Regions from separate parts of the Homo sapiens genome. Here region 1 is linked to region 2. The links come from fine-mapping of genetic effects on gene expression. A gene starts in region 2. The other region holds a variant in brackets. All regions are shown on one strand. Distances are from middle to middle.

Region 1 (4,383 bases), 26 kb after region 2:
GACCTACTCAGGAGGCTGAAGCACAATATTTGCTTAAATCCAGAAGGCAGAGGTTGCATTGATCCGAGATCGCACCACTGCACTCCAGCCTGGTGACAGAGCAAGACTCCATCTCAAAAAAAAAAAAAAAAAGAAAGAAAAAAAGAAATAGGCTCACTGGTTAGGACCTGAGGGTGAACAGCTCTGAAGAGGAGCAAAGGCGGAGACTTCCTAACATCAGCATAGCTCATTATGGTGTGTCAGTTGTCATGGTGATGGGAAAGGATACCTGAGCAGGGTATCCCACAGGGAGGCTGCATCTATCAGCTGGGATCCAGTTACGCTGCAGTAATAGCAGCCCCCAAATCTTAGGGGCTCACAACACCATGTTGATTTCTCACTCATATCCATGTCCTCCATGGGACCACTCTGTTCTATGCTATCTTCATTCTAGAGCCCTGTCTGAAGGAAAAGTCTCAAGCTGGAACTTTCCGTCTCCAGACACCGAAGAGAGGAAAGGTGGCAGACCCCATGACGGCTTTTAAAGCTTCCTCGTGGAAGTGGCACATGTCATTTCCACTCAAAGTCCATGGTCTAAAGCAAGCCACATAGCCATACCTGATGTCAGTGAACTGGGGACAAAAAACCATTCTATGTAGCAGGTCCCCAAAGAGAGGGCCAGTGAATACATGTGATTTTTTTTTGTTGGTTGTTTTTTTAGAGTCAGTGTTTTGTTGTGTTGCCCAGGCTGGAGTGCATAGGTGCATGGTGCAATCATAACTCACTGCAGCCTCTACCTCCTGAGCTTAAGTGATCCTCCCACCTCAGCCTCCTAAGTAGCTAGGACTACAGGCAAGCACCACCACGCCCAGCTAATTTTTTTTTATTGTTTTATTTTTTGTAGAGATAGGGTCTCACTATGTTGCCCATGCTGGTCTCAAACTCCTGGCCTCAAGTGATCCTCCTGCTTCACCCTCCCAAAGCACTGGGATTATAGGCGTGAGCCACCACACACATCCCAGTGAATGTTTTTGAACAATTATAAAATCTTCCCCCGTCTGCCCTCTTCCTTACAAATACTGCCTTTGCATTTTCTTCCATATGCAAAATAAATGCATCCCCTTCCCAAGGGAGACCACCTAAGTGACCCATCTGACATGGAATCAGCCTCAAGCCCAGGATCTCTAATAGTCTCTTCTATATCAGGTCCAGATGTGGCTTCTCTTGATTCAGAGACCTATGAGCTACAAAATAAGAGAGAGACAGAGACAAGTTACCTGTGCCCCATTTCTACACACACACACACACGAACACATCCAACATATAAAGCAGAACAAGGACAGGAGAACAGCAGAGCACACTCCCGTTCAGAAGGAAGGACAGGGCCCGGTGCGGTGGCTCATGCCTGTAATCCCAGCACTTTGGGAGGCCGAGGCCGGTGGATCACCTGAGGTCAGGAGTTTGAGACCACCCTGGCCAACACGGTGAAAACCTGTCTCTACTAAAAATACAAAAATTAGCCAGGCGCAGTGGCTCACGTCTGTAATTCCAGCACTTTGGGAGGCCGAGGGGGGCAGATCACAAGGTCAGGAGTTCAAGACCAGCCAGGCCAACATAGTGAAACCCGGTCTCTACTAAAAATACAAAAAGTTAGCCGGGCGTGGTGGCGGGCCCCTGTAGTCCCAGCTACTCAGGAGGCTGAGACAGGAGAATCGCTTGAACCCAGGAGGCAGAGGTTGCAGTGAGCCGAGATCGTGCCATTCCACTCCAGCCTGGGCGACAGTGCAAGACTCCGTCTCAAAAACAAAAACAAAAAACCCCAAAACCAAAAATTAGCCAGGCGTGGTGGCATGCACCTGTAGTCCCAGCTACTCGGGAGGCTGAGGCAAGAGAATCGCTTGAACCCAGGAGGCAGAGGTTGCAGTGAGCCGAGATAGTGCCATTGCACTACAACATGGGTGACAAAAGTGAAACTCTGTCTCAAAAAAAAAAAAAAAAAAAAAAAAGGAAGGAAGGACAGGAGACACACAGCAGGCTCTGGGCCCCACTAAGTCTAAAGTGCTGCTGGGCAGATGTTGAGAAGAACCCCCACTTTTCCCTGGGAGTGGGAAGAGTTCCCTAGTTCATTCTTCACCATGTTCTTGGCTCTGCCCTTAGAGTAAACCACCCTTTTCCACTTATTCTCCTTGGCCACAATTGAGAGGACACTGGTGGTTATGTCTTTCTGAAGTAGAGTAGCTTTCTCAGTCTCCTTCATGCCCATAGAAATTTGGAGACCCATGGCCAGGTGCGGTGGCTCACGCCTATAACCCCAACACTTTGGGAGGCCGAGGCGGGCAGATCACGAGGTCAGGAGATCGAAACCATCCTGGCGAACACAGTGAAACCCTGTCTCTACTAAAAATACAAAAAAAAATTAGCCGGGCATGGTGGCGGGC[G/A]CCTGTAGTCCCAGCTACTCGGGAGGCTGAGGCGGGAGAACGGCGTGAACCTGGGAGGCAGAGCTTGCAGTGAGCCGAGATCACACCACTGCACTCCAGCCTGGGTGACAGAACGAGACTCCGTCTCTAAAAAAAAAAAAGAAATTTGGAGACCCAGGCCGGGCATGGTGGTTCACATCTGCAATCACAGTATTTTGAGAGGCTAAGGCAGGAGGATCACTTGAGGCAAGGATTGCTTGAGGCCAGCCTGGGCAACATACAGAGACCCCCATCTCTACTAAAAACAAAACAAAACAAAACAAAAAAAAACCTGAAATACAAAAATTAGGCTGGGCATGGTGGCTCACACCTGTAATCCCATCACTTTGGGAAGCCAACGAGGGAGAACTCCTTAAGACCAGAAGTTCAAGACCAGCTTGGGCAACAGGCTGAAATCCTCTCCAGAAAAAAATAGAAAAATTAGCCAGGTGTGGTGGCGCATGCCTGTAGTCCCAGCTACTCAGAAGGCTGAGGTGGGGGGATCACTGGAGCCCTAGAGGTAGAGGCTGCAGTGAGGCTTGATTGTGCCACTGCACTCCAGCTGGAGTGACAGAGCAAGACTTCATCTCAAAACAAAACAAAGCAAAACAAAACAAAAATAGGCTGGGCATGGTGGTACACTGCACGCCTATAATGCCAGCACTTTGGGAGGCCAAGACAGGTGAATCGCTTGAGTTCAGGAGTTCGAGACCAGCCTGGGCAATATAGCAAGACCCTGTCTCTACCAAAAAAATACAAAAATTAGCCGGGCATGGTAGCGCACACCTGTAGTCCCAGCTACTTGGGAGGCTGAGGTAAGTGGATCACTCAAGCCCAGGAAGCGGAGGTTGCAGTGAGCCAAGATCGTGCCACTGCACTTCAGCCTGGGTGGCAGAGTGAGATTTTGTTTCAAAAAAATTTGAAAAACAAAAATTAGCCTGCTGGGGTGGCATGGGCCTGTAGTCCCAGCTACTTGGGAGGCTGAGGCAGGAGGATCGTGTGAGCCCAGAAGTTCGAGGTTATAGAGAGCTGTGGTTGCATCACTGCACTCCAGGCTGGGTGACAGAGTGAGACCCGGTCTCCGAAATAAAAAAAAAGAAAGAAACTTGGGGACCTAAAAATCATACTAAGTATTGAACACTCATGGTCAAGATTTAACCTGGTGGCTTTTTGTCAGGGTGAGGGGGTGTTAGGCAGGGGAAGCAGGGCAATTCCCTCCAAAACTGAACTTACGTATTTTACTCCATTCAGATCCATGGGTCAACAGCATACCCATAATTCTTTTCAGACATAACCATGACGTTAGACTTAACTGTAGTTGAGCCTACTGACTCCCTCAGGTAAGCTACATTTTTTTTTTTTTTTGAGATGGAGTTTCACTCTTGTTGCCCAGGCTGGAGTGCCATGGGTGATCTTGGCTCACTGCAACCTCCGCCTCCCAGGTTCAAGCAATTCTCCTGCCTCAGCCTCCCAAGTAGTTGGGATTACAGGCATGCACCACCATGCCTGGCTAATTTTGTATTTTTAGTAGAGACGGGGTTTCTCCATGTTGGTTAGGCTAGTCTCAAACTCCTGACCTCAGGTGATCCGCCCACCTCAGCCTCCCAAAGTGCTGGAATTACAGGCGTGAGCCACCACGCCCAGCCAAGGTGAGTTACACTCTTAACCTCTTTCCTTTGAATCATCTTGACTAGCTGAGAGGATTTATTAGGAACCACTTTGATCAGTTTGGAGATTTTTACAAAGGGCATAATAGCCATATACTTGATATGGCCCTTGCCACAAAGATGACTTTTAATCAAAACTTGTAGCTCAGCCGGTCGCAGTGGCTCACACCTGTAATCCCAGCACTTTGGGAGGCCGAGGTGGGAGGATCATTTGAGGTCAGAAGTTCAAGACCAGCTTGGCCAACATGGTGAAACCTGTCTCTACTGAAAATACAAAAATT
Region 2 (4,383 bases):
CAACGGTAGGGCCGAGGGATGCTGTCAGCCTCCTCACTGTCCTGGTTGGGAGATGGATGGAGCAGTTCTCGGTGCCGAGAGAGCTCTGGGAGGCTGGGAAAGTGGCGCTGACAGTCGGAGCAGCTGAGTGAGGGGGGTGTGTCCTCCATGGGGCAACGTAGCAGAAACCTGGAGGTTCAGAAGGAGCAGACACGTGGCAGCACCTTCCTCTGGTGGAGGGGCCAAGGCCTAGGAAGAGGGGGCAGTGGTCAAAAGGAAGGCCTGAATTAACTTCGCCTCTTGGCTCTACGAGCAACAAGTTCACCTGAGGTCACTGAGAGGTTCCCCAAGCATCCATGCCCAAGGACCTAATTTCTACTAGATCCAATCTGCAGGCACCATCATTTAAGGCTTCCCTGTGCACAAGCTTCCCAAATATAGGAGCTCCCCTAGGCTTAAGTCATCCCTACAGGTATAGCTAAGGAAATTAAAGTTGAGAGAGATGCAACCTACTTCTGATCACAGACCTGTTATGTTCTTCAGACCAGACTCAAAAGGCATTACTGTCCTTTAAGAACAGTAGGAATCTGCTCCCTACAATCCTGAAACAAAAATTTTCTGTGACATCTTAAAAGGACACCAAAACCTTCTCTAGGCCTTTCAATAAGAGAAGTCCAAATCTTCCTACTTCATCTCTCAGCTAAACAGAGTAGCTGAGAAGCACTGAAAAAGCAGCTGTTTCCTCCAGTTAATAGCTGAGGACCTGAGAGGAGAGGTTAGAGGCCTCCTTCAGGGAAAGGGCTGGCTTGTTCCCCCACCACCCCGAGTCATTTCAGTGTCACAAGGTCTCTTTTCCTTGTGACAAGAGAGTTAAGAGAGTTAAGACTCTCTTAACTGGGCCAGGTGTGGTGGCTCACGCCTGTAATCCCAGCACTTTGGGAGGCCGAGGCTGGTGGATCACCTGAGTTCAGGAGTTCAAGACCAGCCTGGACAACATGGTGAAACCCTGTCTCTACTAAAAATACAAAAATTAGCCGGGCGTGGTGGTGGGCACCTGTAATTCTAGCTACTCAGGAGGCTGAGGCTGAAGAACTGCTTGAACCTGGGAGGTGGAGGTTGCAGTGAGCTGAGATCCCACCACAGCACTCCAGCCTGGGTGACAGAGCGAGACTCCATCTCAAAAAAACAAAAAACCCCAAAAGACTCTCTTAGCGACTTCTTTTATCTACTTCCCTTGAACTCAAACTATCTTCCATCTTGGGAATAACATCAATACCAGGTTGTAATGTCACTTCATTGCCTACCTTTTCTCTCCCATGCCTCCTGATCTTACCCTCACCAGTCTTTCTCATTTTTTTCTTCTGCCTCCTCTCTTAATACTGATGATGACAGCAACTCATGAAGAGTATTATATTACCATGTGCCAGGCACTGTGCTAACTATATTCATTGTGTTACTCAATCCTCAGAACACACGGCAATGCCTGTTATTCTAGTTCACGTAACAGCAAACCCCCTGACTGAGGCGGTCTTCATCCCAAAGCCCTTGCTCTCTCATGCCCCCTACATCGTCTTGTCCTTCTCCAACTCTGACTCTTCTTCCCATGGGACCCCAGTACAACTGTCTCCGACCGTAAACCCCTTCACTGAACCTGCCCCCGGAATTCTCACCTCACAAAGCCCCTTTGATCAAAAGTCCCCTCCCCTAGTCAACCACCAATGAAGTCCTCTGACCTCACTCATCTCGTCTGCCAATTTCCTCTCAGGACGCCTACCTCGCACCGGCGGCCCCCTCTCCTTCCCGCCGCGGGCGCGTCAGTTGGGGACCGCGAACAAGAGCGCGCCTGCGCACTGGGACCCTTACCCTAACTGCAGCCGCGCGCCCCAAGGGGTGGCTGTCGGGGGGCTCTCGCGCTCCCACACACGCACACTCAGCCAGGGTTCCCGGGAGGTGGGAGGGAAGGGAAAGAGGGAAAGGAGAAGGGGGGAAGAGGAAGGAGGTAGAGAAAAGAGGGCGCAGCTGGCATGAGCCAGGAGTCTACTCCCAGCTCTACGGACACTTCCTATTGTTACTAGGAAACAGGAAGTGTCCTTAGGTGCAAAAGCTTCCCCGCGAAACTTCCGCTTCGGGAGCACTGCCTGTCCCGCCTCCGAGCCGCAGTTTTACGCAGACACACTTCCGGCGCTAAGTTCTAGGTCTGCACGGCTGACTCCGCCCACGTAGGTCACAACGCGGCGTCTTTGCACGCTAAGCTAGCCACACTTCCGGCAAGAGCAGCTAGAATCGTTCCGGTGCATATTGAATAGGCGCAGAAAGGGAGAAAAAGATTCTACAGCCCTGGCCACAGTACTTTGGTGACACTTTTCGTGGGGCTCTCTGGAGGACTTTTCCCAAGGCAGATGGAGAAAACTTCGTGAAACCCACTCCTTGCTATTAAAGGAAATGTTGTGGAATATAATTGGACTTAGGTTTTGCAGAGCTTGAGCATGGCCTTTTTGTCCTCCCACCTTCTGGTTCTTGAAGACATTGCCGGTGACCTGGCCCCAGACTAACACAAGGCGGGCGTATACCGTCAGCCTGCCTGGCGTCCCCTTGCCTCAGCACACACAGAGACCTCTTGCAAGATGCTTCTCTGCCGCCATAGGCTGGAGGTTCCCCGGGAACTTTCCCTTCCTTCCTAGCTGAGGAAGATCCCTCACTTCCGCTCGCCGCGCCACCGGTCCCACCTCCCCGCCCCCCGCTGGGTCCTAGCGCCGGCCCCTGTTTGGCAGGGTCCGGGCTCCGTCGGTGCGAGGAGCCGACGCCGACGCCACGGAGTCAGCACAAGTCTCATCAGGTAGGAAACGTCGGCGGGAAGCCGCGAGGGCCCCGGGCAGCTCCCACGCGGCCACGATCCGAGCTGGCCTCAGTTTCCCTGCGGGCGCCGAGGGCGGGCCGGGTTGGCCCAGCGCGAGCAGCGCGGGCGGGGCGGGCTGTGAGCGGCCCCGGGCGCATTGCGGGCCCAGCAGGTCCTAGAACCCGCCGGCTGTCTCCGCGGTTCTGGGCTGCGGACACCCAGGCTCGGCCCGCGCGGCTGCTGGCCCGGCGCGGTGTGGTCCCGGGGGTCCTAGAGCCCGCCATGTTTTGGGTTTTTGTCCCGGTCGCGTGGCCCGCGCTGCAAGATCCCAGGCGCCGGCGGCCCCCTCCCCTGCTGAGGCCCGGCCACCACTCCCGCGGTCCTAGAGAACGCCATCTTGCAAGCCTTTGTCCCTCATTCGGCCTTCCGTCCATTCATTTGTTCATCTCCTCATCCTTCGTTCAGTCCTCCTTGCCACGTCCTCCGAAGCCACGTTTTCTGAGGCTTATAACCGGGGTCCTGCCCTCCAGGGGCTGCCTGGCTGGCGGGGGCGCCGCGTACAGACGGTTGCGAGGAGCGAGGAGCTCCGGGTTTCTGCAACTCTCGGCTCCTCGGCGCGCTTCGTAGGCCCCACCGCCCTTCAAACTCCCACAAACTTAAGGGACCCCATTTTACTGATGAGGAAACTGAGGTCCAGAGCGGCGTGGGGCCCTTACCTCTCTACTGCCATAAAGTATTCCTGAGGGCACTAGGGAAGGGGGTTCTTGAAGGATGTAAAGGGGCTTTCCCGTTGGAGAAGGCAGGCAAGGGCTCCCCGAGCCCAGGAAACTGCATCTAGAGGTGGAGGATTGAGAATTGTGGCTGGAGGTTCGGTCGCTGCCGGGAGGAGGACTCTGTCGCTGGAGCTGAGGCTGGAAAAGTAGGTTGGGATCAGGTTGTGAACTGGCCCGGTAGGAGGCCTAGGATATGATTAGCGCTCACTTCTGCAGGGTTCATCCGCTCACTACGTCACTCCTGGCCGTGAGGCCTGTGTGGTGACTGCTTGTTTAGAGATGGGAAGATTGAGGTGCCTCCTTTTTCTCCTCATCCCTGCCCCAGGGTCCTAGCCTAGGATTTTTGGAAATTGAATCTTTGCTTGCCTAGTGAGACAGCAGAACTTCATCCCCTTCCTAAGCCAGTAGTGAGGCAAAGCAAGGCTTCATCGCCACGACAGGGAGCCCACTGTGGGATATTGGGGCAATAGTTGAGCCTTGTGGAGTTGGAAAGGTGGAGGAATTTAGTTAATAAACAGTTATTGGTGGACATTCTCACAAACTCCTACTGTGGAGGAGGCAGAGGCTACAGACCTGGGTTCAAATTTCATCTGAGGTTGGTTCTTTCCATTTGTTTTGGGTCACCACACAGGGTTCTGGGTGTAGAGGAGGCAGATGATCGGTTTCCTAGCCCTTTGCCAGCCTGGACTCTGGTGCTGGTGATGAAGAATTAACAGCCAAACCATAAGATGTGTAATGCTAGCAAAGCAATAGTCAGGGCTCAGAGAGCAGGTGTTTGGGATTTGAACACTGGCT

What was found. PIP is the estimated chance that this variant, and not a neighbour inherited with it, causes the effect. A credible set is the group of variants that fine-mapping cannot tell apart.
Region 1: its variant is the best candidate, but not a certain one, in a credible set for the expression of ZNF646 in whole blood (TOPMed, PIP 0.55).

The regions. Positions count from the first base shown.
Region 1 is chr16:31,046,353-31,050,735 of GRCh38, reverse strand. No RefSeq gene overlaps it. Among named protein-coding and RNA genes, the nearest start is that of STX4, 15 kb to the right of the region's middle. The variant G/A (reference allele first, on the strand shown) is at 2,418.
Region 2 is chr16:31,072,091-31,076,473 of GRCh38, reverse strand. It overlaps ZNF646 (zinc finger protein 646), which reads right to left and starts at 2,052. Exons shown (of 3, transcript NM_014699.4): 1 at 1,843-2,052; 2 at 1-228. The coding sequence starts at 149. ZNF668 (zinc finger protein 668) reads left to right here and starts at 2,234. Exons shown (of 3, transcript NM_024706.5): 1 at 2,234-2,815. RefSeq lists enhancers at 1,286-1,818, 2,174-2,313, 1,819-2,352, 2,972-3,266, 2,558-3,358 and a silencer at 2,624-3,083.